Homo sapiens: one gene and its partners. The protein of the gene in region 5 purifies or fractionates together with the protein of the main gene of each other region. This does not show direct contact. Each region holds a gene or a part of one and is shown on either strand. Other genes may lie near its edges.

Region 1 (3,500 bases), on a different chromosome or scaffold from region 5:
GTATGTGTCACAAATAGTTCCACCTACCTGCTGGCCTACAAGACATGCTACTCTCCTCTCTCCGGGAATTTTTTTGTTTTTTTTTGAGATGGAGTCTGGCTCTGTCGCCAGGCTGGAGTGCAGTGACGCAATCTCGGCTCACTGCAACCTCCGACTCCCTGGTTAAAGTGATTCTCTGGCCTCAGCCTCCCGAGTAGCAGGGATTACAGGCACGCACCATCACACCCAGCTCATTTTTGTATTTTTAGTAGAGACAGGGTTTCGCCATGTTGGCCAGGATGGTCTCGATCTCCTGACCTCGTGATCCGCCTGCCTCAGCCTCCCACAGTACTGGGATTACAGGCGTGAGCCACCACAGCCGGCCTCTGGGATTTATAAGTAATAAACTCCTTCTGTTATTTCCTGTGTTTGTTGAATTGTCTCCTCCGAGTCTCACCTAATTGCCTAACTGACACACCTGACTACTATTTGAACCTAACTACTATCATAATCGGGGCTCTCTTGGTAGGAACAGAGTGGTAGTGTTTATTAGCCACTAATAGATACCGGATTAGTGGCTACTCTAGTCTAGGATTAAACTGACAATGGTCAGACAAGATCTACAAGGTGCCTGCTTGTACAGAGCAAGTATAAACAAGTGTGCTGTGAGAGGGACACCTGGTCATGGGTATAACATCTAGGCATCAGGCCCTCCAACAGAATGAAGAAATATCCCTTGAAAGGCACATTTTAAATATCCTCCAAGAAATCCCCCAGAGCCACACCAGGACAGGGATAAAGTTTTAGCCAGTCTCCAGCTATAAACAAGATCAAATCAGAAAAACACAAACCTCTTAAAAACAAAAGCAGCCAGGCACAGTGGCTCACGTCTGTAATCCCAGCATGTTGGGAGGCCAAGGCAAGTAGATCACTTGAGGTCAGGAACCCTGTCTCTACTAAAACTACAAAAATTAGCCGGGCATGGTGGCTCACACCTGCGATCCCAGCTACTCGGAAGGCTGAAGCACTGGAAACACCTGACGCCAGGAGGCGAAGGCTGCAATGAGCCAACATCATGCCACTGCACTCCAGCCTGGGTGGCAGAGCGAGACTCTGTCTCCAAAAAAAAAAAAAAAAAGAGAGAGAGAGAAAATAAAAAATTTTAAAATTTTAAAAAGTAGCAAACTTTCATAAGTTACAATTTTTTTTCCAACTTGACAGTAGGGAGAGTGTTCTTTATTTAACCTGGGAGCACAGATTCAAGTTGCCCTAAATATACACTCTCTAGAATGTTCTCTTACAAGAAAATTAAGTAGGCCTGAAAGGAAGAGCCAAAGTCAACTCAATTAAAATCAAGAAGAGTACCCTTCCCCACCCTTGATGATGGTGCATGCAGAAGGCGGCCAAAAAAGCCAACAAACAAAAAAATTTAAGAGTCCATCAAAATGTAGAATGGAGTGAAAAGATAAATCACTCCCTGGAACAAAATATTAGCAATCCCTATAAATGAAAAAGAATTAGCCTACAGAGTAAGTTAAAAAAAGAAAAAAGGGAAGAAATGAAGCAATAAATATACAAATGACTTTAATGTGACAAGATGACTGAAAACTATTTTACAGAAGATGAAAGGCCACACAGAAAAAATGCTCAATCCTAGTGTAAAAAGCAACATGTAATCACACAGAGAAAAATAAAGAGAACTACTTATAAGGAGTAAATACACATGCATACATGGTCAGATGGTTAATCCATATATTCCATTGGCATTCCCAAGTCAATCTATCTATAAGCTACATCCCAGGGATTTTTTTTTCCAATGTATAAAAAACTTACAAAGCAGCCAGGTGCGGTGGCACACACCTGTAATCCCAGCACTTTGGGAGGCCGAGGCAGGCAGATCACGAGGTCAAGAGATCAAGACCATCCTGGCCAACATGGTGAAACCCCATCTCTACTAAAAATAAAAAAAATTAGCTGGGTGGGGCCTGGCGCAGTGGCTCATGCCTGTAATCCCAGCACTTTGGGAGGCCAAGGTAAGCAGATCACCTGAGGTCAGGAGTTCAAGACCAGCCTGACCAACATGGAGAAACCCTGTCTCTATTAAAAAAACAAAATTAGCCGGGCGTGGTGGTGCATGCCTATAATCCCAGCTACTCTGGAGGCTGAGGCAGGAGAATCACTTGAACCTGGGAAGCAGAGGTTGCAGTGAGCTGAGATTTTGCCATTGCACTCCAGACTGGGCAACAAGAGTGAAACTCCGTCTCAAAAAAAAAAAAAAAATTAGCTGGGTGTGGTGGCATGTGACTGTAATCCCAGCTACTTGGGAGGCTGAGGCAAGAGAATCACTTGAACCCAGGAGGCAGAGGTTGCAGTGAGCTGAGATCGCGCCACTGCACTCCAGCCTGGCCTGGCGACAGAGCGAGACTCCGTCTCGAAAAAAAAAAAAAAATTTATGAAGCATGGCTGGGCACAGTGGCTCATGCCTATAATCCCAGTGCTGAGCCCAAGGGTTTGAGTGCTGGGCAACATGGCAAGACCCCATCTCTATAAAAAAATACAACCATTAATCAGGCATGTGGCACACGCCTGTAGTCCCAGCTACTTGGGAGGGTGAGATGGAAGGATTGCTTGAGCCTGGGAGGCCAAGGTTGCAGTGAGCTGTGATTGCACCACTGCACTTCAGTCTGGGCAACAGAAGAAGACCTGCCTCAAAAAAAAAAAAAGAAGTTTATGAAGCATTAGCACTTGGAGACAAAAACAACAATTACATTGGCAACAGATAAAATACTAACAACTCAAATCAAGCAGTGGAATGGTTAGTAACCTGGGTGACCCACAGCCTCAGACAGCAGCATGTGTGCAACGGACTGAGGCAAAGAAACCACAAAAGGCCGGGCGCGGTGGCTCACGCCTGTAATCCCAGCACTTTGGGAGGCCAAGGTGGGTGAATCACAAGGTCAGGAGATTGAGACCACCCTGGCTAACACAGCGAAACCCCGTCTCTACTAAAAATACAAAAAAATGGCCGGGCGTGGTGGCTCACGCCTGTAATCCCAGCACTTTGGGAGGCCAAGGTGGGCAGATCACGAGGTCAGGAGATCGAGACCACCCTGGCTAACACAGTGAAACCCCGTCTCTACTAAAAATACAAAAAATTAGCCGGACGTGGTGGCAGGCGCCTGTAGTCCCAGCTACTTGGGAGGCTGAGGCAGGAGAATGGCGTCAACCCGGGAGGCAGAGCTTGCAGTGAGCCGAGATTACGCCACTGCACTCCAGCCTGGGGGACAGAGAGAGACTCTGTCTCAAAAAAAATAAAAATAAAAATAAAAATACAAAAAAATTAGCCGGGTGTGGTGGCGGGCGCCTGTAAGTCCCAGCTACTCGGTAGGCTGAGGCAGGAGAATCGCATGAACCCGGGAGGCTGGGCTTGCAGTGAGCCAAGATCGCTCCATTGCACTCTAGCCTGGGCAACAGAGCGAGAGTCCGTCTCAAAAAAAAAAAAAAAAATTCAGAATCAGTAC
Region 2 (3,500 bases), on a different chromosome or scaffold from region 5:
TCCACCTTATCACAAGAAACACCCTTAAGGAGGGCACAAACTCTTTTCCAGCAGCACAAGTTGGAAAGCAACACTATCACACAAAAGCTTGAAGCCATGTTCATCATAAAAAGTAGTTCAGGAGTTAGGCATGAAAAAGGGAAGGTAATACTAAAGATGAATGGATAAAAATCAAGGACCAAATATATACTGATTTTTCTTCTATGTCAAGTATATGCTTCCAAATAATACAACCACGTATTAGAGAAAGATAACCAAAATAAGTAGTAGATCAGAGACCAAGAGATCAGGTTTTTCTAGGTATTTTAACTGTTTGACTTCAGGTAAAATGTTTTAACTAATCTTGCCAAGTTTTTAATCTATAAAACGAAGTCAGCACAAATGAGAGATTCCTAGAATTTGTAACACAATGACTTCTTTTTAAGAATTTTCTCCAAAACAGTTTCCATATTTTAAATAATTTTAACCCTCAGTATACCGGAAAAAAACAGTTTTTACCCTTTTTCTCTGGGTACAGTAGACCACTTTTTATATTTTAAAATATTTTTAAGTTAATTTCAAATAATGAAATACAGAGAATAAATAAAAAAGATAACAGATAAAAGAACAGATATTGAAAACCAATTATTGGAACCCAATTAAAAAGAGGTAAAGGATTTGAATAGACAATTCTCTAAAGAAGATACAAAAATGGACAAAAAGCATGAAAAGATGTCCAACATCACCAATCATTACGGAAATTCAAATCAAAACCACAATGAGATACTGTGTTACAACCACTAGGATGGCTAGAATAAAAAAAAAATAAGAAATGTTGGCAAGGATATGGAAAAATTGGAACTCTCATACATTATTGATGGGAATGTAAAATCGGGTGGCCACTTTAGAAAACTGTTTGGCAGTTCCTCAAAATGTGAAATACAGAGTTACCATATGATCCTATGTATATACCCAATATAAATGAAAACATGTCTTCACATAAAACATGTACATGAATGTTTATGACAAGATAACTCATGTAATCCCAAAAGTGAACTGACCCAAATGCCCATCAAGTGATGAGTGGATAAACAAAATGTGGCATATATCCATACAGTGGAATATTATTCAGCCATAAAAAGGAATGAAGCACTCATATGTACTAAGCCATGAATGAACCTTGAAAACATTATGGCAAGTGAAAGAAGCCAAAGACACATGTTACATCATTCCATTTATATGACATGGAATCTCTAGAGACAGAAAGCAGATTTCTGGTGCCATGGGTTGGAAGGAGGGAGAGTAGGGAATGACTACTAAAGGGTACAGAATTTCTTTTCTAGATGATGAAAAGCATCTAAAAAATTAGATAGTGGCTGGGCACAGTGGCTCACACCTGTAATCCCAGCACTTTGAGAGGCTGGGGCAGGTAGATTGCTAATAGGTCAGGAGTTCAAGACCAGCCGGGCCAACATGGTGAAACCCCATCTATACTAAAAACACAAAAAAATTAGCCATGTGTGGTGGCACGTGCCTGTAATCCCAGCTACTTGGGAGACTGCGGCAAGAGAATCACTTGAATCCAGGAGGTGGAGGTTGCAGTGAACTGAGATAATGCCACTGCATTCCAGCCTGGGTAACAGAGCAAGACTCTTGTCTCAAAAAAAAAAAAAAAAAAAAAAAAAAAAAAAAAAAAAAAAAAAAAAAATTAAATAGTGGTGTTGATTGCACAACTCTGTGGCTATATTAAAAGTCACTGAATTGTACACTTTAAAAAGTAAATTTTATATAGTGGATTATGTCTCAGTAAAGCTGTTACTTAAAAATCAATAAAACTAGGCCCAACACAGTGGCTCAGGATGTAATCCCAGCACTTTGGGAGGCCAAGGCAGCTGGATCCCTTGAGTCCAGGAGTTCGAGACCAGCCTGAGCAACATGGTGAAACCCCCATCTCTACAAAAAATGCAAAAATTAGCTGGGCATGGTAGCTCATGCCAGTGGTTCCAGCTACTTGGGAGGCTACGGTGGGAGGATCACTTGAGCCTGGGAGGTGGAGGCTGCAGTGAGCTGAGATTATGCCACTGCATTCCAGCCTGGGTGACAGAACGAGATCCTGTCTCAAATAAAAATAAATAAATAAAGTTATTGGAGATTTTACTAAGCAATTAAGTATAGCAAATCCAAATTTATATTACATGTTTTACTGATTTTGAAGGTAAATTTAACCAAAATGGGCAAAGTCATTTGAATGCAGTTTTCTGTGCATCGGCTGCCACATACAAACCTAGAATATATGCCTTCTGTACGTCCTGATCCCAGATTCCAAAGACATCTTTAATAGGTTCTAACTTATAATTTCCTCTGGTTTTCTCATATGTGTATCATCTAAATAATTTCAGATTATAAATGCATTTCTAGTAGAATCTAGCTTATCACTACTTCCAATTCTTCTTCTTGTACTTACATATCCAAAATGCAATACTTTAAAAAACTTTGATGTCTCATACTTTTTTTTTTTTTTTTTGAGGCGGAGTCTTGCCCAGGCTGGAGTGCAGTGGCACAATCTCGGCTCACTCCCAGGTTGACTCCACTCTCCTGCCTCAGTCTCCCGAGTAGCTGGGAGTACAGGTGCCCTCTACCACGCCTGGCTAATTTTTTGTATTTTTAGTAGAGACGGGGTTTCACCATGTTAGCCAGGATGGTCTTGATCTCCTGACCTCGTGATCCACCTGCCTCAGACTCCCAAAGTGCTGGGATTACAGGGGTGAGCCACTGCGCCCGGCTGATGTCTCATACTTCTATTGAAGAGAGGATGGCCCAGCCATCTTCTTTGCTCTATACTTGCAAAATATTTTCATTATTAAATTTATAATCACCAGTTAACACAATCAATCCAGAAAACAATTTCATGTCTATATAATCAATTTCCTTTCAATCATTGTTGTCTTTGCCTTTATGTTCAGCATTTGTCAGTTACAAAACACATCAAATTAATTTTGGTGCACAAATATCATAGAACAAAAATGATCGTCTCATTTTAGCAAACAGGATGTTCCAGGTTTTTGTTACAAAGTATTACATGATGAGTTCTTTTTCAAAGATTGACTGTAGAAGGCCACCATAATTCCTTTTTAATTCTTGGAGATACAGTGTTTACTCATTGATTCTTGAATTTGAGAAAATTCATTGAAGACACTGTCATCTGAAGACTCACAGTCTGAGATTTTGCTTATACAATCAATTTCATCATCATCATGAGCATCCAGAGAGCTATCTATCTCTTTGCATTTGACTTCTGATTCGTCTAAGAATTGTGGAACATGTTTTTCTGTCAATTTTAGACATTATGAGCAAAAAATTAAAAATTTTTGAAATTTTCAATTGTATTAAATGAAAATTAAAACAGAGCAACTACAAACATAAGAGTCTCTGAAGACTTTATAACTTCTTAAAAAACAGATGTAATGCTTTGGACAACACCATAGGAAAACTATATGATGACATAATAGTGATAATTTATT
Region 3 (3,168 bases), on a different chromosome or scaffold from region 5:
ATTGTTAGGGCTACTTGTAGCCCCTAAATTTTCCAGAAACTGAAAGTGAGATGAGATGGGCTCCTTTTCCAGCTCCATCACTCCCTGAGTCTCTGAGAAGCTTGAGAATGAGAGCCTGGTCTGTAGCTGTCCAGTAAACATCTGCTAGCTTATCTGCCCCTAAATGTGCCCAAAGGGAGGAGGGCCAGATGTGTTAATGAACATTTACTTGTTCTTCTTTATATGAATACAAGCTCTTGGTCCCTCCTTTCTTATTCAAGGAAGGAGATTGTACAGCAGACCTCACGAACTATCTGCAGTCTCATATGGTATCCATCTGTGCCTAAGGAAGACTGCTTGTGATTAAGACTTTTGACCTAAATAGTAGGTCTCTGCCCATGTCTGCAGTATAATCATCTTTCCTCGTTTGGCATTTTGAATGTGTAGCTTTTTTTGTTTTTTTTGCATGACATTTTTTTTGACGTTACATTGGATGTGTAGTTAACTTTTCCTGGTTGGTTGTACTCGTAGGATCTCTATGACGCTGGAGTGAAGAGGAAAGGAACTGATGTTCCCAAGTGGATCAGCATCATGACCGAGCGGAGCGTGCCCCACCTCCAGAAAGGTGGGCACTGTGCTGAGGGAGTCTCAGTGCCTTGGGGCCCTGGCTGGGGCGGCTGGGTGGATGTCCATGTTGGGATGGAGTCTGCCAGAATGAGGTTCTGTCTCCGCTTGGCACTCTCATAGGCTCACCCATTTTCCCTCACCTTTCTCTCCCATTCTGGATTCTTTTCTCTTGCAAATAGTTTCTGCATTTGGTGCTTTATTCTGCAGCTCCTTCTTGTTTGATGATCATTTGGTCTTGCCATTATTTGTTGAAGTAGTGGACTTTGGTGCATGCTCTGTACTGTTTCCTATGGTTTTCGGATGGAATGGGTTCCACTCAGGGGAGATAGAGATGGTCCAAATATGTGGCCTGGGCAGTGCCATTCAGGACAGGTGGTATGGCTGTTCCACGACAAACTTGGCCAATGTTGGCTCTGGTCACCGTGGTAACCTCTAAGCTCCTAGGATGCTGTGATCATCCTCAATTTTTAAAAAAATTATGGTGCATAAAACTAGGTGGGTGATCGTTGACAGCTTTGACTAGTGGCTCGGATCTGATAACTCTTTGTTGTTTTTCCTCAGTATTTGATAGGTACAAGAGTTACAGCCCTTATGACATGTTGGAAAGCATCAGGAAAGAGGTTAAAGGAGACCTGGAAAATGCTTTCCTGAACCTGGGTAAGTGAATGTGGCCCCCATTCCTGGTAGACATCAGCTACCAGAGCAGAAGTGACAGATGGCCATCCTGTTAATCCAAATGTGTTTGGGAGGTGTGGCTTCTATGCATGCTTTGGATAGTTTTACAGTCTTAATTGTATAGATTTCAGAATATAAAACTGAAGAAAGGCCTAACTTGGTAACAGATTGTTGCCAGGGAGGAGTAAGAGAACAGGAGGAGAGAGGGGTGTGTTGTGGAAACTCACGTATGCACTTGGGTTCTGCAGGCCTCAGAGACCCCTGGTTTAAAACCGTGGTGGAACTTAGTATTGCAGAGGATTTCTAGATTTCCCTTAGCCTGTCCTATTTTGCAGCCCTTTTCCATTGCATTAGGTCACTTCTGGTTTGTGGCCCAGGGCCAGGGCATCCTCTCTCATTGGTAGAGGAGAGACCAGAGCAGCTGCAGCGCTGACTCCCTTTCTTCTCTCCACAGTTCAGTGCATTCAGAACAAGCCCCTGTATTTTGCTGATCGGCTGTATGACTCCATGAAGGTAAGGGCAGCTGGCTGAGAGAGCTGTGTTTCCACACTCAGCTTTTCTTCTTTTGGGTCCCAAATTGAGTCTCCTTGATTCATGGATGGAGGAAGGGGACCCCACTGTGTGGATGCAGGAACACACTAGTCAGCTGTGGTTGTATGTGACAGCTGAGAGAACCACAAATCTGTCTTCTTTCTCTCAGCTGCTTGAACATGTATTTGCGTACAGACAAAAAGTAAAGTGCCATGGGAGAGAGAAAATGCGACATGGTAGTCGTGTCTGATCCCTGCTTAGGTTTCTCCGTGATTTCTTCCTGTTACTGCCAGAGTCAAGACAAGCGAGGAAGGGAGCGATTATTAAGCACCCACTATACAGTGGACAAGTGCTACTATTTTACCTTAAATCATTGCATAACAACCTCTGAGGCTTATGATTATCTTCTTTATAAATGCAGAGATGGAGCTCAGAATACCTCAGCCTGCTTGAAGTTACACAGACAGATTTGAACCTGGGTCTATCAGACCCCAAAGACAGCCCCACAACCCTTCCCTAAACGAACCACCTCTTCCCGTAGACCCATCCCATTTTCTACACCTCAAGTGTGCCATGTGTTTTCTGGCTTCTAGGCTTTTGCATTTTCCTTCTGGAACATCTCCCTTGTCTGTGCTGCCTCTGCCATCTGTCTTTGAGTTCCATATCAAATAGCACCCCTTGGTGCCTTCGCTCTGATGCTCTGGAAGTAAACTCAGTGGTCTTTATTGCACATATCATTAGAAATGGCACAGAGCGATGATAGAAATGTGTTGGCATGTTCCCTCTAAGCCTGCAAGAGTCAGGAACCTCTTGTTACATATGGAGACTCAGACTGCTTGAACTGAGCCTTGCAGTAGTAGGTGCTCAGTATATATTTATTGAATGGTGGCATAGAGTGGGAGTCTGTGCTGACTACAGCCTGGTGTGTTTGGAATTCCCAGATGCTCTTCTTTCTTTTCTTTTCTTGTCTTGTCTTTTTTTTTCTTTCTTTTTTCCTCCCTCCCTCCCTGCCTTCCCCTGCCTCCCTGCCTTCCCCTCCCTCCCTGCCTTCCCCTCCCTCCCTGCCTTCCCCTCCCTCCCTGCCTTCCCCTCCCTCCCTGCCTTCCCCTGCCTCCCTGCCTTCCCCTCCCTCCCTGCCTTCCCCTGCCTCCCTGCCTTCCCCTCCCTCCCTGCCTTCCCCTGCCTCCCTGCCTTCCCCTCCCTCCCTGCCTTCCCCTGCCTCCCTGCCTTCCCCTGCCTCCCTGCCTTCCCCTGCCTCCCTGCCTTCCCCTGCCTCCCTGCCTTCTCCTGCCTCCTTGCCTTCCCCTGCCTCCCTGCCTTCACCTCCCTCCCTTTCCTTCCCCTCCCTCCCTTTCC
Region 4 (4,007 bases), on a different chromosome or scaffold from region 5:
GCTGGGATTACAGGCATGAGCTACCGCACCCAGCCTATACTGGGTGGTTTTACAGAGAATTACTAGGGTGGTATTGTCGGGAACCTGGGAGCGCTTTGCTGACTAGGTATTTCAGTGATTTTTGTCTCAGAGGTGGGAGGATGGCAGTTGGGTTGGAATTGTCGTCGGTAAGAAGTGGCAGTCATTTGTGTTCACTTGGAGAGGGGGATGAGAACTCATTTTTGTGGTTGCACAGGGCCCATGTCTCTATCTTGGTTCAGACATGGTCACAGAGTGGCCTTGCCTCATCATTGTTTATATTCTGTGACCATTGTTTATATTTAGTGGAGAACATCGCGGCCCAGCCATCAGGAGCTGATTTCCACTCTCTCTCCTGGCTGGCAGCGGGGATCTGTGTCTCCAAGGAAAGTTTGCCCCGAGCCCTTCCCGGCCCGGCGTAGGGTTCTCCGGAAACCATCACTCACATCTAGCACTTGGAGGCCTCCAGGGACAGCGGTGACCCACCATCTGGGTAGGAGGCTGAAAACACTAGAGGAGGAATATCCCAAATCTGTGCCTTGGCGGGTGTTACCCAGAAAGGGTGACGGGTTTCACCATGCAAAAAGGAAAAATTGGAGGAAGGCCAGGTTAAGCAAAAATAGACATGTTTTTAGATTGCAGAGCTGAGAGGCTTGGCTGTGCCTATGTGCGCTGCAAGTCTCCAAGAACAACATGTGTAGAGTTTTACGAACAAAGATAGAGTCAGAGACATGGGCAGGAGGCAGAGACAGAGAGAGAGAGACAGACAGACACAGAGAGAGATAGAGGCAGAGAAAGCAACAGAGGCAAAGAGATTGGAACACAGAGAAAGAGATGGGGACAGAGACACAGAGAAAGGAACAGAGATGGGAAGACAGGGACAGAGACAGAGAATGAACAGAGATAGAGAGATAGGGACGGAGAGAGACAGAGAGAGGGACAGGGATGGAGAGAAAGAGATAGGGCCAGGGCCACAGAGGGACTGAGACAGGCCCAGGAGGAGACTAGGGATGGGGCCAGGGCTGCGTGCGGGCGGGGCACGGTGCAGACAAAGGCGCGGCCGCGCGGTCGGGGTGGCCTGGCCGGGGACAAAGGCCTGCCCGGGGGGCGGGGGCAGCGATGGCGACGGCCGCGGCGGGCGCGGGCGAACTACAAGTCCCAGCAGCTCCCGCTGCGGCCCTCGGCCGGCCCCTCTCGCTCCCCGGGAGCGCCTGGCGGGGCCGCTGGGCCGAGGGGGCCGCCGGCGGGGCTGGCGGGCGGGGGGCTTCCTGCGGGCCCGGGGGGAGCCGGCGGCCGGCGCGGGCGCGGCGGGCCGGGCAGGGGCGAGGGGCGCCGGGTGAGTGTCCCTGCGAGCGGGCTGGGGCCGGGGCGGGGGGCTGGGTGGGGGGCGGGCGGGCGGGGGAGCTCCAGGCGCGGGGCGCAGCCCGGGGCGACCTCTAATCGTCCCCCGCCCTGCGCGCCGCCGGCCCTGGCCCAGGCGAGCGGGGGTCGCGGGAGCGATGGGGAGGGGACTCTGCGGCCAGCTCCGGCCTAGCGCACCCATCCCGCCGCTGGGGCCCGGGGGGAAAGGGCCAGGAGGTTGGGAGCCTTCAATCGGGCGGGGTGGGGGGCGCCCGCCAGCTCTGGGGTCTGGAGCTCAGGACGCCCCCTCCCTAGGAGGCGATCCAGGACCCCCTCCCCTCCTGATTCGAGGTATTGTTCCCACCTCCCGCCTGGGGTCTGGAGTTCAGGAGGCCCTGTCCTCAAAAGGGGGACCTAGGGGTTCCCTCTTCCCCCAGGACCCTAGGAAGGGTCCCAGCGATTGTTCCCTTGCCCCTCCAGTCTTGGGGTCTGCAGTTCTGGAAGCTCCTTTCCCTGGAGGTGATCCAGGGGTCCACCTGCCCTCACCCCTGGGAACTCAGGAAAGACTTAAGTGATTTCTCCTCCCACCTTCCAGTTAAGAGATGGGAATTCAGGGGGCTCCTTCCCCTGGAGGCAATCTAAGGGTTCCTCTGCCCCTGATGCAGGAGGGGTCCCAGGTCTTGTTTCCCCCACTCTCCAACTATGGGGTCTGGGTTGAGGACCGCCGTCCAGGAACTCGGCTCTGTTTGCCTGCACACTCCCAGCTATGGGGTTGTGGCTCAGTGTATTCCTTTCCCCAGAAGGGGAGCCACAGGTCCCCCCACAGCTTCTCCCAGGAGCAGATCATTCATTGTTGACACCTCAACACCCAGCCATGGGGTGGGGAGCTCAAGGCATCCTCCCGGCAGGTCATCCTGGGCTCCCATTGCTCCCCAGAAGTGGTTCCAGCTTTTGTCCCTCTACCTCCCAGTCTGCCCCTAGCCACAAGCTGGCAATTCAGTTCAGGATCCTTCCTGCAGGAAGGGCTACAAGTGTGCTGACACTACCCGCCATGTCCCAGCCATGGGAGGAGATGACTCAGGCGTTCCCCCATTAACTTCAGAGGGTCCCCAGGTATTATTTTTGCCTATCCTCCAGCTAGAAGTTAAAATGCAGGACCTTCTAGCCAATAGGGAAAACAGGTATACTGGCCGGGCATGGTGGCTCATGCCTGTAATCACCATACTTTGGGAGGCTGAGGTGGGAGGATCATTTGAGCCCAGGAGTTTGAGTCCAGCCTGGGCAACATACCAAGACCCCATCTCAAACATAAATAAATAAATAAAACAGGTATACTAACAACTGTCCCCACCATCCTGCCTATGGGGTTCATGAGTCTCCCTACCCATCCCTCCTCACCAGGAGGGGTCCCAAATATCACTCTACCATGCTCACTATCTGGCTGTAGGAAAGGGCATTTCCGATCTGTCTAAGAGAGAGGATTTGACACTGACTCCCACCTGGAGCTGTGAGCTCTGGAATTCAGGTTTTCTTTTCCCCAGAGGGCAAGCCAGAGTCTTCTTGTCTTTCCCCAGTGACTTGGGAGGGATACCTGATGTTATTTGTTCCATATTCTTATCCCCCAGACATGGGTTCTAGAGCTCAGAATGCTGCTGCTGGAGGGGGGCCTCCCTACCAGAACTCGCCCCCTAAATTAATCTGCCGCCTCCAAGTATGGGACAAGAATTCAGGCCATGTGCTCAGGAGCACAGAAACGCTGACACCCACACTGTTCCCCATGTGGGGACGCCCAGCAAGGGGGTAGGAAGCTAGGACTGTCTCCTCCACAGGACCCCAGCTTCCCACAAGAGGAGCCCAGGTTGGAGAGAGGTGCAGAGCCATGGAGTTGGGGACTAGAAACCTCTAGTGCTGGGTCTCATGACCTCCGTCCAGGTTTGGGGCTGAGAGGGGAGGGTCCTACCATGTCCCACCTGGTTCCCTCAACTCCCTGCCCTGGCTGGGGTAAGTCAGAAATCTCCTTGCAGTCAGAGACAAGGGAAGGATCCACGTGTATGCTCAGAAGTGAGTGGGGTTTGGCCAGGCACAGTGGCTCATGCCTGTAATCCCAGCACTTTCTGAGGCCAAGGCCAGAGGTTTGCTTGAGTCCAGGAGTTTGATACCAGCCTGGGCAACATAGCGACACCCCATCTCAAAAAAGAGAGACAGAGGGAGAGAGAAAGGAAAGAAGGAAGGAAAGAAGGAAGAAGAGAGAGAAGGAAGGAAAAGAAGGAAGGAAGGAAAGAAAGAAAGAAAGAGAGAGAGAGAGAAAGAAAGAAAGAAAGAAAGAAAGAAAGAAAGAAAGAAAGAATTGAAGTTAGCTGAGTGTGGTGGTGCATCTGTAATTCCAGCTACTTGAGAGGCCGAGGTGGGAGGATCGCTTGAGCCCGGGAGTTCCAGTCTGCAGTGAGCTATGTATGATCACATCACTGCACTCTAGCCTGGGTGACAGAGTGAGACCCCATCTCAAAAAAATAAAAATAAAGAAGTGGGGCTGGGCGCGGTGGCTCACGCCTGTAATCCCAGCACTTTGGGAGGCTGAGGCATGCAGATCACCTGAGGTCAGGAGTTTGAGACCAGCCTGTCTAACATGCTGAAATCCCATCTCTACT
Region 5 (3,500 bases):
TGTCCAGAGGAAGCACAGCACAGGAAGTGAAACTATGAAGTGTTCCACCTCATAGAGCATAGCAATTTTAGGACTGTAAGGAAAAAGAGGAAGTTAAGGAAGAGGCTGTCAGTGCAGGGAGACAACCCAGGAAAAGGCAATGCCAAAGAAGTCAGAGGGAGAGAGAATCCTGGGAAGAAGGGTTGTGTTTACCTCAGGCTGGACAAAGATTGACTTTAAATTTGGGAATCAGAAGCCTCCAGATGACATCTGAGAGAACAGTTTTACTAGAGAGCCATTACATTTATAACAACAACAACAACAACAATAAAAATAAAATTAATATCTACATCTCTATGTCTGTCTCCCTTTACATTTGAATAGTGATTTATATTTTATTCAATGTAAACTTTTTCTGAATCATTCCTTCTCCACAATGAGATATTTTTATTCATGAATTTACTCATTCCATAAGTAATTTACTGAATCCTTGCTGTAAGCCAAGCATGGGCTAGGTGCTGGGATATGATCTCTTTTGAATTCTCATACCCGGTGTTCTTTTTTAAGGGCCTTTATTGCTTTCTGCTTTGCATTATTGCAATCTGCATGTCTAGCTTAACCCTTCTATTAGCTTGTAAACTCCTTGAGGGCAAGGGTTATTGTACCCATCTTTTAATCCTTTCATCACCTAGCATTAATGCAATAGAGCATCTGGCTTTTAAGAAATATTAAATTGAACTAAGTTGCTCTTCACACAAACTGTGTGGAGGTAGGTGAGAAAGATATTTCCACTTGATATGGATGAAAAACAAATAAGGGTTTAGTGGCTCATTCAAGTTCATATACTCTAAATAATTCATGCCTTGACTTTGGAGGAAAAAAAAGTATTTTAGCTTCCAAACTGGCTAAAGTTATCTGGAACTCAAGAACAGACTGGGAAAGCTAGGTAGTCTCCAAGAGACAGTTACAAAAAGTGTCTTCTTGGGCTGGCTATGGCTGAAGAAAGAAAACTTAGATTCTTCAAATGAAATCACAATTGACTTATCCTTTCAGTATTTTCCACTTTTTTGAAGAATAAAGATGCTGTTTAGGTACAGGGAAAACTAATACTTATTTGTTATATGGAGTCCAACAGAAGCAAAAGACAACCTTATAATTTCATTTATTACTTCCATTAATGTAGAGCCTAGCATAATCATCACCTTAATCATTCTGGAAGATTTTTCAGAAATTAATACTCTCAAAATATTTGATGAGTGTGTGTCTATGTGTATGTGTATTCTTTTGTCTCTCTGTCTCTCTCTCCACACACACACACACACACACACACACACACACACAGTTTTCATTTGTATAGGCCTGTGAAATGAGAACAGTTATTTCATCCACAAAATAAGTCTTTTAGAGAAAGTTAAGAATCCAAAACTTTCAATTTCATTTTATTCCTGTGGACAAGGCTCAGAAGGAACGATTTCCGTAGGAGAAAGCAATTGCTTTATACTTTAGAAGAATGCTAAGTCTTTTTCACAAAAAATGTTTTGGCTTAACCAAACATTCTGAAGCTGCATATCTTCAATATATAACATTTAGGAATCCCCCACTTACAATTTTGGTGCATTTTCCACCTTTAATTACAATAGATATAAATGTTTCCACATAGATAGGCTAGGCAGGTCGGATCCCACCGTGCATTAATCTGCTTCTGTCTTTTGCTGAGCATCAAATCAATTTTTGATCAGAAACACATAGATATTTGTTTGAAGGACTCCAGAGAAATTTGTTAAGACATTCCACTAGCTAACATTTTCTTGCATGTAATATGCATGTTGAAAGTCTCAATTAGGGTTCAGTAAGTAAAATCATTGGAATGCAATGTTTTCCCATAATTAACATTTATAAAGTCTCTAGTAACCTGGAAAGGGTTATAAAGATGTTCATTGTGCAATGAACTACATTCTGATTATGCTCATACTCAGTGGTTGGAGTCTAGTCGAAAAATTGTGTGCCTATTATAAAATCCCAGGTAATGGATTTCCTCTAAGTTAATATTTTCCTGTAAAATCATGATATAGACTGAGAATCCCCAGTGTCTCCTTTCCTTGATCTTTCTTTTCTTAACAGGATCTTTATTGTCCTTGTGTGCCTTCACTCCAACTCTGATTAAAAAGGACTCTCTACAGAAGACGTACTACTGGTCACTTACATTGGTAAGTAAATTTCATAAAAACACCTTGACCTGTACAAGCTTTATAGTTTACAAATTATTTTTATGTATGTTATTCCACTAAATTCCCACAACTCCCTTTTCCAAATGAGGAAGCTGAGGCTCAGAGTAGTTTGATAATTTGTTCAAGATTGTGCAGACTGAATACAGTGGAGCTGGGATTCAAACAGGTTTTCTGTCAAGTTTGGTCATTTTTTCATTCTTTTGTTGCTTTGTGTAAATTTAAGTGTTTGTACTAGCTTTTCCAGGATTTTCTACGTTTTTGGTTTTATCTGACAGTCCTTTCCCTGTTAAGAAAATTTTCAACTACATGCAACATTGGAGGTAGGGTCCTTTTTTTTTTTAGATCTTCCTGAGAAACTCTGAAATCATACCATTGTGGGGAGCTGCCTCTTCCACTTACGTATAGGTGTGAAGATCATCTGAATGTTTATTTTGAAACTGGACCCAAGGTCATTAGCTATTTTGGGGCTAGTAGTTTTCTCTAAAATATTCAACTATATTTTACAACATATTAGGCTGACTTTTCTCAGCACCTACATTCTTACGCAATTTATAATCCTTGTGTTTTAGAGGGCTAAGACTGGATGGAGGTATGTTTAACTCACATATTGAGCTTATGCTCTAAACTCAAACTCACAGGTGAAACATTTTAATAACTGAATCTTTTCCAGTGGATGATTTGAAGATGTATCTCAAAGAGATGATGTAGGTTACATAGAATACATATCAATATTTTATTAAAATTATTTATCTTTTAAGGACGAAAAATGTCGGCATTAGCATAGAATCACCTCTTTATGAGATGTATATATTTTATGATGAACAGGGGAAAAAAGAGCTTAAATTGTATATTGAAAGTGGGAAAAATGAAAGTCTATAGGAGAATCCTATAACTTCCTCTTGTCTCTTCCTGGCTAAAACTAAATACCTAACATATGAAAAAAAAAATAAACTTACCTTGACATGTTCTACTTCTCACCACTTGGTATCCCTGGGGGCACATACATGAGAATTTCCCAGGTTCATTGACACATTGATATTGACACAGGTAGCTTGAGGTTCTGCATTCATCAATGTCTGTTGAATTAGACAAGAGAAAGGACACAGAGTTGAAAAGTTTGTGCACCACTACTTTGGATATATATATATATATAAATTATATATATATATAAATTATAAGATTTAAAATATCTATATTAAAATAATTATATATAATTAAAATTATTTATATTTTAAGGAGGAAAAATTATATCTACCTATATATATATAAAGAGATCTGGCTTCTTGTCCTATT
Region 6 (3,401 bases), on a different chromosome or scaffold from region 5:
ATCTCTTCTAAGGACAATTATTTGTTTGAATTTATGCTGAGTCCTGAGGAAGCTGTCACAACTACACCAAAGTGTACTTCCAAATTGGATAGAAATTATTTGTGATTTCATATGAGTAAAGGAAGGCTCTCTTTTTCTCTCAGTTCTAGGAAGAGTTCATATCATCACCTAAGTAACCCTAATCTGATCACTTCTTTCTACCTTTCTGGTGTTTGATATCTTTATCCCAAATCTCTAAAGCCCCAACCTTCTTGCCCATTAGCCACAACTCTCAGAAATGGACCTCATAGGGCAGGGGACACAGCCTCTTTGTTCTGATGATAAAAGCAGGTGTTTACCCAGCACTGGTTGGTGCTGTTGGCATAGACTCTGAAAGCTCTCAAGCTGTCTGGGCTCACGTCCCAGGTCTCTCCCCAGCCCCCCACCCCCACCTGGTGTGTTGCCTGAACTGGAGCCACTCAACTCCCTGTGCCTCTATTTCCTCACCTCTGAAATGGCAATGCCAAGAGCACTGTTTTAGGGGGCTATTCTGAGCATTATATATGCTCATAGATGGGCCTGGCACAAAGTAAGTGCTCAGTAAATGTCAGCTACTATTATTTCCTTTTTTTGTTTTTTGTTTTTTGTTTTTAGACAACGTTTCACTCTTGTCACCCAGGCTGTAGTGCAATGGTAGGATTTTGGCTCACTGTAACCTCTGCCTCCTGGGTTCAAGCAATTCTCCTGCCTCAGCCTCCTGAGTAGCTGGGACCACAGACGTGTGCCACCATGCCAGGCTATTTTTGTATTATTAGTAGAGACAGGGTTTCACCATGTTGGCCGGGCTGGTCTCGAACTCCTGACCTTAGGTGATCTGCCTGCCTCAGCCTCCCAAAGTGCTGGGATTACAAGAGTGAGCCACCAAGCCCTGCCTTCTATTATTTTCTAATACCCTGTGTTCATCTCCTCATCCTCCTTCCTCTTAATTATCCACTTTGCCATTTCTATTCCTGTCCATCAATGCTTCCCCCAGTGTCTTTTCTGATCACCTGTGCCCCCTCCTCTCCTATTGCTGACACACAGCCTGGGCCATTTTCCTTACCAAGACCTCCCCCACCCCACATCCTTGAAACATCTGCCTATCTCTTTCTTGCCTCCTTTTGAAAATCTTCAGATCCCATGTAGCACCTTGGGCATTTTTGTACTTAGTAGCCCATCTTTTGACACCCACTCTATGATAATTTAACACCAGCAGTTCACCAGACCTGAGGTTGGCTGCCTTGGGGCTGGCAGTGTGGTTTAGGAGAAAGAGCACTGGGCCGGGGGCACAGGGACCATCTCTGCACGGGCTCTGCCACCAGCTCCTCTGACCATAGCGCAGGTGGCCCTTCCTGGGTCTGCATCGTATGGTAAGGAGGAACTTTAGGGCTCCAAGGAACTCTAACAGCCCACAGTTTTGAATCCAGCACTTCCTGAGCCCCCAGCATGGGCTACGGTGTGTGCTGGGTGCTTTTCTCTGTTGATTCCACAAATTTCAATTGAGCCAATATTGGCTGTACCCTGTGCTAGGTGATGGAGCTGCAAGGGAGATCAGGACAGACTGTGACATCCTTCATAGAACAGACATAGTTAAATATTACAGACTTGTTTGGAGGTAGGTCTCAGTGCTCCAATGTTTGCAGATTTCAACCAGATATTTTGGGAACGTTTCACTGTCAACAGCTAGGACTGGCAGAACCACCAGGTGAGCCCAGGTCTGAGTGACTTTGAGAGTGGCTCACTCTCCAGGCAACCTCCCTGGACAGGGGTGAGTCTGATGCCTTCTCACGGGGGTATCAGCCTCCGATGGGTGGGGTGTGGAGGTGAGAGGTCATAGGTGCCTGGATAGGAAGTGACTCTGCCATCACTTCCTGTGTGACCTGAGGCCTGGGATGAGGATGGGGCAATTGATGGGGAAGCGGGGAGCACCTGTGCTGTGGGGTGGGTGGGATGTGGACATGTCTGTGTTTCTGCTGTGTCTCCTGTTCTTCCCCTGGGATTGGGACTATTTCCATCCTGCTGATCCCTTGCCACTCACACTGGGGGGGCTGCCTCTTGGGTTAGACCTTCCACCCCTGTGGTCTGTTATTCACTGACCGTTACTGTCGTTGTAATACTCCACGATGTCTTTCAGGGTCTCCATAAAGATGTCCTCCCTGGCCTTCTGAAGTTGGCTGTCCTGCTTCCAATCCTCCATTCCTTCCACCTGTCTCCAGAGTCCCATGGGCTGAGACTTCCTGTCTTTACTGTTGTATCTAAAGAACTGGAGGTCATTGAGTGAGCCAAGGGCCTGAAACGCGGGGACGTCTTCAACATGCTTGGACAGCCCAGTGTAGATATAGGTCAGAGAGTAACGACCTGCAAAAGAAAAGATTCTGATGGTTGAGGTCCATGCAAGGGTCCCACTGTGGGGCTGCATAGGGCTAGGAGGGGAGACCTGCCACTGGCCTTTTCTTCCCCAGCTCTTTCTCCTGCCATCAACTTCACACCACTGGAGGCTCACTCAAGTGAATATGCTCTACTTTCATGCCTGAGATGATATTTCAGAGACCATCCTGTGTCTTCACTACATTATTTCCTCTGCTTGACACATAGGAAGATAACATTACTCAGCCACCTCGAAGATATATTGGGACCATGTGACTGAGTTTTGTCAAAAGAGAATGTGAGCAGAAGTGATGTCTTTCTTCTTGTCCAAGACCCTACCAGCTGGCTTGTCCCTTTTGTTTCTCATCCCTAGAGGTGACGACTTTGAAGGCCACAGGATAATATGAAAGAGTCTCAATATGCAATTGGCCTGGATCCCTGAGTCACCCCATGGAGGAATGGAACCTTGCCCAGTGTGCATGGAATCTGACATGCGTTAGAAATTAACATTTCTAGGCTGGGCTCCGTGGCTCATGCCTGTAATCCCAGGACTTTGGGAGGCCAAGGCAGGCAGATTACTTGAGATCAGGAGTTGAAGACCAGCCTGGCCAACATGGTGAAACCCCATCTCTATTAAAAAATACAAAAATTAGCTGGGCATGGTGGTGCGGGCCTGTAATCCCAGTCATGCTGGAGGCTGAGGCAGGAAAATCACTTGAACCAGAGAGGCAGAGGTTGCAACAAGCCAAGATCATGCCACTGCACTCCAGCTTGGATGACAGAGTGAGACTCCGTCTCAAAAAAAACAAATTAACATTTCGTCCGGGCTCAGTGGCTCACGCCTGTAATCCCAGCACTTTAGGGGGCCGAGGCGGGTGGATCACGAGGTCAGGAGATCGAGACCATCCTGGCTAACATGGTGAAACCCCGTCTCTACTAAGAATTCAAAAAATTAGCCAAGCATGGTGGCGGGTGCCTGTAGTCCCAGCTACTCAGGAGGCTGAGGCAGGAGAATG
Region 7 (3,500 bases), on a different chromosome or scaffold from region 5:
ATGACAGGATCACATTCTGTTGCCCACGATGGAGTACAGTGGCGTGACCTCAGCTCACTGCAGCCTCCACTACCTGGGTTCAAGTGATTCTCCTGCCTTAGCCTCCTGAGTAGCTGGGATTACAGGCATGCACTACCGTGCTCAGGTAATTTTTTTTTTTTGAGACGGAGTCTCGCTCTGTCGCCCAGGCTGGAGTGCAGTGGCACAAACTCGGCTCAATGCAAGCTCCGCCTCCCGGGTTCACGCCATTCTCCTGCCTCAGCCTCCCGAGTAGCTGGGACTACAGGCACCCGCCACTACGCCCAACTAATTTTTTTGTCTTTTTAGTAGAGACAGGGTTTCACTGTGTTAGCCAGGATGGTCTCGATCTCCTGACCTCATGGTCCACCCACCTCGGCCTCCCAAAGTGCTGGGATTACAGGCATGAGCCACCGCGTCCAGCTGTGCTCAGGTAATTTTTATATTTTTAGTAGAGATGGGGTTTTGCCATATTGACCAGGGGTCTCGAACTCCTGGTGTCAAGTAATCCACCTGCCTCAGCCTCCCAAAGTGCTGGGATTACAGGCATGAGCCACCACACCCAGCCCTCATCAGAAAATTTAACACTGTACCTCTTCTATGCTATCTGTTAAGAAACAGAAAATCCTTGGCATCAATCTTCCCAACGTTACTTTCACTATATTTTACCTCTACTCAAGAACTTTCTCTATTGCCTGTTGTGACAAAGCCTAAAATCACATAATTATCTATTCCTATTTCTCTGTATTCTATCAGATCAACCCATCACTGTGGTCAGCTGTCTCTTTACTTCCCCTGAGAACAGAGTATACATTTCTGCTATGCATCTTGACTTACTCTGTCCTCCCTTTTGTAGAATGCTACCCCTCTCTCCCCATCTTTCCAAATTATACCCAGCCATATCATACCAATCTTTTAAGGTACAATTGTGGCTTTATGCCCTTCTTTAGGTCTTATCTAAATACCTAAACTAAAACTGATGCATATTTTCCTTTTTTTTAGAGACAGGGTCTCCCTATGTTACCCAGGCTGGTCTTGAACTCCTGGGCTCGAGTGATCCACCTGCCTCAACCTCCTCCCAAAATGCTGGGCTTACAGGCACGAGTCACCAAGCCAAACCTGATGCATGTTCCTGAAACTTCTCATTCATTTATATAAGTCGTCCACCCCACTCATCCTTGACACTTAACAGGCTTGCCTAGTACTGATATGTATGTCCCTAGCATAAGTTTTTTCAAGAGCTAAAACTATCTTATGTTTCATTTGTGTTTCCCAGTCTAAAAGAACACAGAGCACAGAAAATACTAAAAAAAAAACAGAATGCATTAAGCTGTATAAATGACTGGGACCCTTCTGATCTTGAGATTCTCTTCTACAATACAAATGGCAAAAGTATCTTAGAAGGAAGATACTTATATTTCTTCTCCCATCATTGATTTTCCTTTCACTGAGGGAGGGCTCTTAATTAACATTCCCATTTACACCTCTCCATGGCCATTTCTGTCTCCAGGGCTTGTCTCCCCACCCCACTCCCACGTTTTCTACCCTTTCTACATGATTTTCAAATCGTCTTCTGTCTTTCCCCATCCCCATAATTTTGGTTCGTCTGTATGCACTTGTTTTTCTTCTTCTGACAATTCTCATTTGTCTTTGCATGTAAGAGTGTATTTTCTCACTCACTTCAAATTTATCTTAGTGACTGTTTGGTTTCATTCATAATGTTGAGCATGGCTTTTTCTTTCCCTCATTCTTCTCCCACATATTTGCCTCTACAAATTTCACCTGCTGTTTCTTCAGTCAGTCCTGGCATGAGCTGGATATGGACATGAACACCTCTTTAATTTCATACTCACCAGCATAAGTGCTTTTGTACACGTCACTCTCCTTGGACTCCGGTGGGGCCCCAACCTGAGGCTCTTCTTCTTGTTTAATCCAAGACAGAATATCTGATGTTGAAATACCAGGCTCTAATTTGTGGGAGGAAAAAAAAATGGCCTTCATGAACTTGAATAAGAAGGTAAGATAATCAAGTTGGTTTGCTGAACACTATATTTTGCCCCAAATATTTTTCCTTTCTTTTTTTCTTTTTTTGAGACAGAGTCTCGCTCTGTCACCCAGGCTGGAGTGCAGTGGCACGATGGCTCACTGCAAGCTCCGCCTCCCAGGTTCAAGCCATTCTCCCCGCTGCCTCAGCCTCCCGAGTAGCTGGGACTACAGGCGCCTGCCACCACGCCCAGCTAAGTTTTTTTTAAATTTTTTTGTTTTTAGTAGAGATGGGGTTTCACCGTGTTAGCCAGGATGGTCTCGATCTCCTGACCTCATGATCCGCCCACCTTGGCCTCCCAAAGTGCTGGGATTACAGGCTTGAGCCACCGCGCCCGGCCCCAAATATTTATTTCTAAATAACTATAACAATAACACAGAACCAGCCTTTTAAAAAATGCATACAGGATGGGTGTGGTAACTCACGCGTGTAAGCCCAGAACTTTGGGAGGCCGAGGCAAGTGGATCATTTGAGGTCAAGAGTTCAAGATGAGCCTGACCAACGTGGCAAAACCCTGTCTCTACTAAAAATAAAAAAAATTAGTCAGGCGTGGTGGCAGGCGCCTGTAATCCCAGCTACTCAGGAGACTGAGGCAAGAGAATTGCTTGAACCTGGGAGGCAGCGGCTGCAGTGAGCCGAGATCGCACCATTGCACTCCAGCCTGGGCAACAAGAGCAAAAAAACTCCATTTCAAAACAAACAAACAAACAAAAAACAAATCAACTTCCAGAATTACAAAGTTAGTTCAGTATAGACACAGAATCCAACTCCCTAGAAACACACTTTTCAGATTCCCAATTCTGGGCTCTTTCTATGAGATATATTATCTTTGTCTATTAAATGATACAAGTCATTGTTTCCTAAATGCTGGGAGGGGGAAGAATATAGTATTGGCAAGTCCTTCAGGTCTTGGGGGTTCTTTCTGAAAGAAAAAGTGCACAGCCAATATCGGCTTTGCACACAACATGCCTCATCTGATCAGTACCAAAACAGCTGTGCTAGCTATTACAACCTAGGCCTATATGGCTTTATTATTTTTTTTTTTTTGGACTAAATGGACAAGTTGGCAAGCTGACAAGAGAGCTTGTCAAGCTCCAGAGAGTCCCCTGAAGCTCTCTATAGTTATTTCTCAAACACAGCCTTGTGGGCAGAATATGGTTTAATTCACAGCAAATTAACAGAACTGACTACTTTACCCAATGTCTTCTAAATCAGTTAGACGCCACTGAAATCTAAAGGTGTTCTCAAAGCAGAAATAAGAGGCTGGGGTAAGACGAAAGCCCAAACGACCATCGGTTATGGGGAGCGATTTGGGAAATAGATTTTAGCATATGCAACAGTTGCCTTGCCAACCTCCTGTTCTGACCTAAAAGAAAAGCTGAAGTGTATTAAACATAGTCCAATCTTATCTTTGTTCTCTTCCAGATGTTATACACAT

What was found.
Region 1: the proteins of EFEMP1 (region 5) and ZNF136 purify together in Homo sapiens (affinity purification with mass spectrometry; 2 studies listed by BioGRID and IntAct, with this or other methods). This does not show direct contact.
Region 2: the proteins of EFEMP1 (region 5) and POLR3G purify together in Homo sapiens (affinity purification with mass spectrometry; 2 studies listed by BioGRID and IntAct, with this or other methods). This does not show direct contact.
Region 3: the proteins of EFEMP1 (region 5) and ANXA2 purify together in Homo sapiens (affinity purification with mass spectrometry, with the first as the bait; one large-scale study listed by BioGRID). This does not show direct contact.
Region 4: the proteins of EFEMP1 (region 5) and ZNF358 purify together in Homo sapiens (affinity purification with mass spectrometry; 2 studies listed by BioGRID and IntAct, with this or other methods). This does not show direct contact.
Region 6: the proteins of EFEMP1 (region 5) and AZGP1 purify together in Homo sapiens (affinity purification with mass spectrometry; 2 studies listed by BioGRID and IntAct, with this or other methods). This does not show direct contact.
Region 7: the proteins of EFEMP1 (region 5) and ZNF398 purify together in Homo sapiens (affinity purification with mass spectrometry; 2 studies listed by BioGRID and IntAct, with this or other methods). This does not show direct contact.

What each region holds. Positions count from the first base shown.
Region 1 is NC_000019.10:12,169,596-12,173,095, reverse strand, and holds part of ZNF136 (zinc finger protein 136), read right to left. Parts: intron 1-3,500. UniProt on the Homo sapiens protein: May be involved in transcriptional regulation as a weak repressor when alone, or a potent one when fused with a heterologous protein containing a KRAB B-domain.
Region 2 is NC_000005.10:90,491,864-90,495,363, reverse strand, and holds part of POLR3G (DNA-directed RNA polymerase III subunit RPC7), read right to left. Parts: intron 1-3,500. UniProt on the Homo sapiens protein: DNA-dependent RNA polymerase catalyzes the transcription of DNA into RNA using the four ribonucleoside triphosphates as substrates.
Region 3 is NC_000015.10:60,349,819-60,352,986, reverse strand, and holds part of ANXA2 (annexin A2), read left to right. Parts: intron 1-510; coding exon 511-604; intron 605-1,167; coding exon 1,168-1,263; intron 1,264-1,735; coding exon 1,736-1,794; intron 1,795-3,168. UniProt on the Homo sapiens protein: Calcium-regulated membrane-binding protein whose affinity for calcium is greatly enhanced by anionic phospholipids. It binds two calcium ions with high affinity. May be involved in heat-stress response.
Region 4 is NC_000019.10:7,514,896-7,518,902, forward strand, and holds the start of ZNF358 (zinc finger protein 358), read left to right. Parts: upstream 1-1,207; 5' UTR 1,208-1,354; intron 1,355-3,787; exon of another isoform or gene 3,788-3,810; intron 3,811-4,007.
Region 5 is NC_000002.12:55,871,783-55,875,282, forward strand, and holds part of EFEMP1 (EGF-containing fibulin-like extracellular matrix protein 1 precursor), read right to left. Parts: intron 3,284-3,500; coding exon 3,164-3,283; intron 2,187-3,163; exon of another isoform or gene 2,101-2,186; intron 1-2,100. UniProt on the Homo sapiens protein: Binds EGFR, the EGF receptor, inducing EGFR autophosphorylation and the activation of downstream signaling pathways. May play a role in cell adhesion and migration. May function as a negative regulator of chondrocyte differentiation.
Region 6 is NC_000007.14:99,969,631-99,973,031, forward strand, and holds part of AZGP1 (zinc-alpha-2-glycoprotein precursor), read right to left. Parts: intron 2,377-3,401; coding exon 2,116-2,376; intron 1-2,115. UniProt on the Homo sapiens protein: Stimulates lipid degradation in adipocytes and causes the extensive fat losses associated with some advanced cancers. May bind polyunsaturated fatty acids.
Region 7 is NC_000007.14:149,174,953-149,178,452, reverse strand, and holds part of ZNF398 (zinc finger protein 398), read right to left. Parts: intron 1,986-3,500; coding exon 1,872-1,985; intron 1-1,871. UniProt on the Homo sapiens protein: Functions as a transcriptional activator.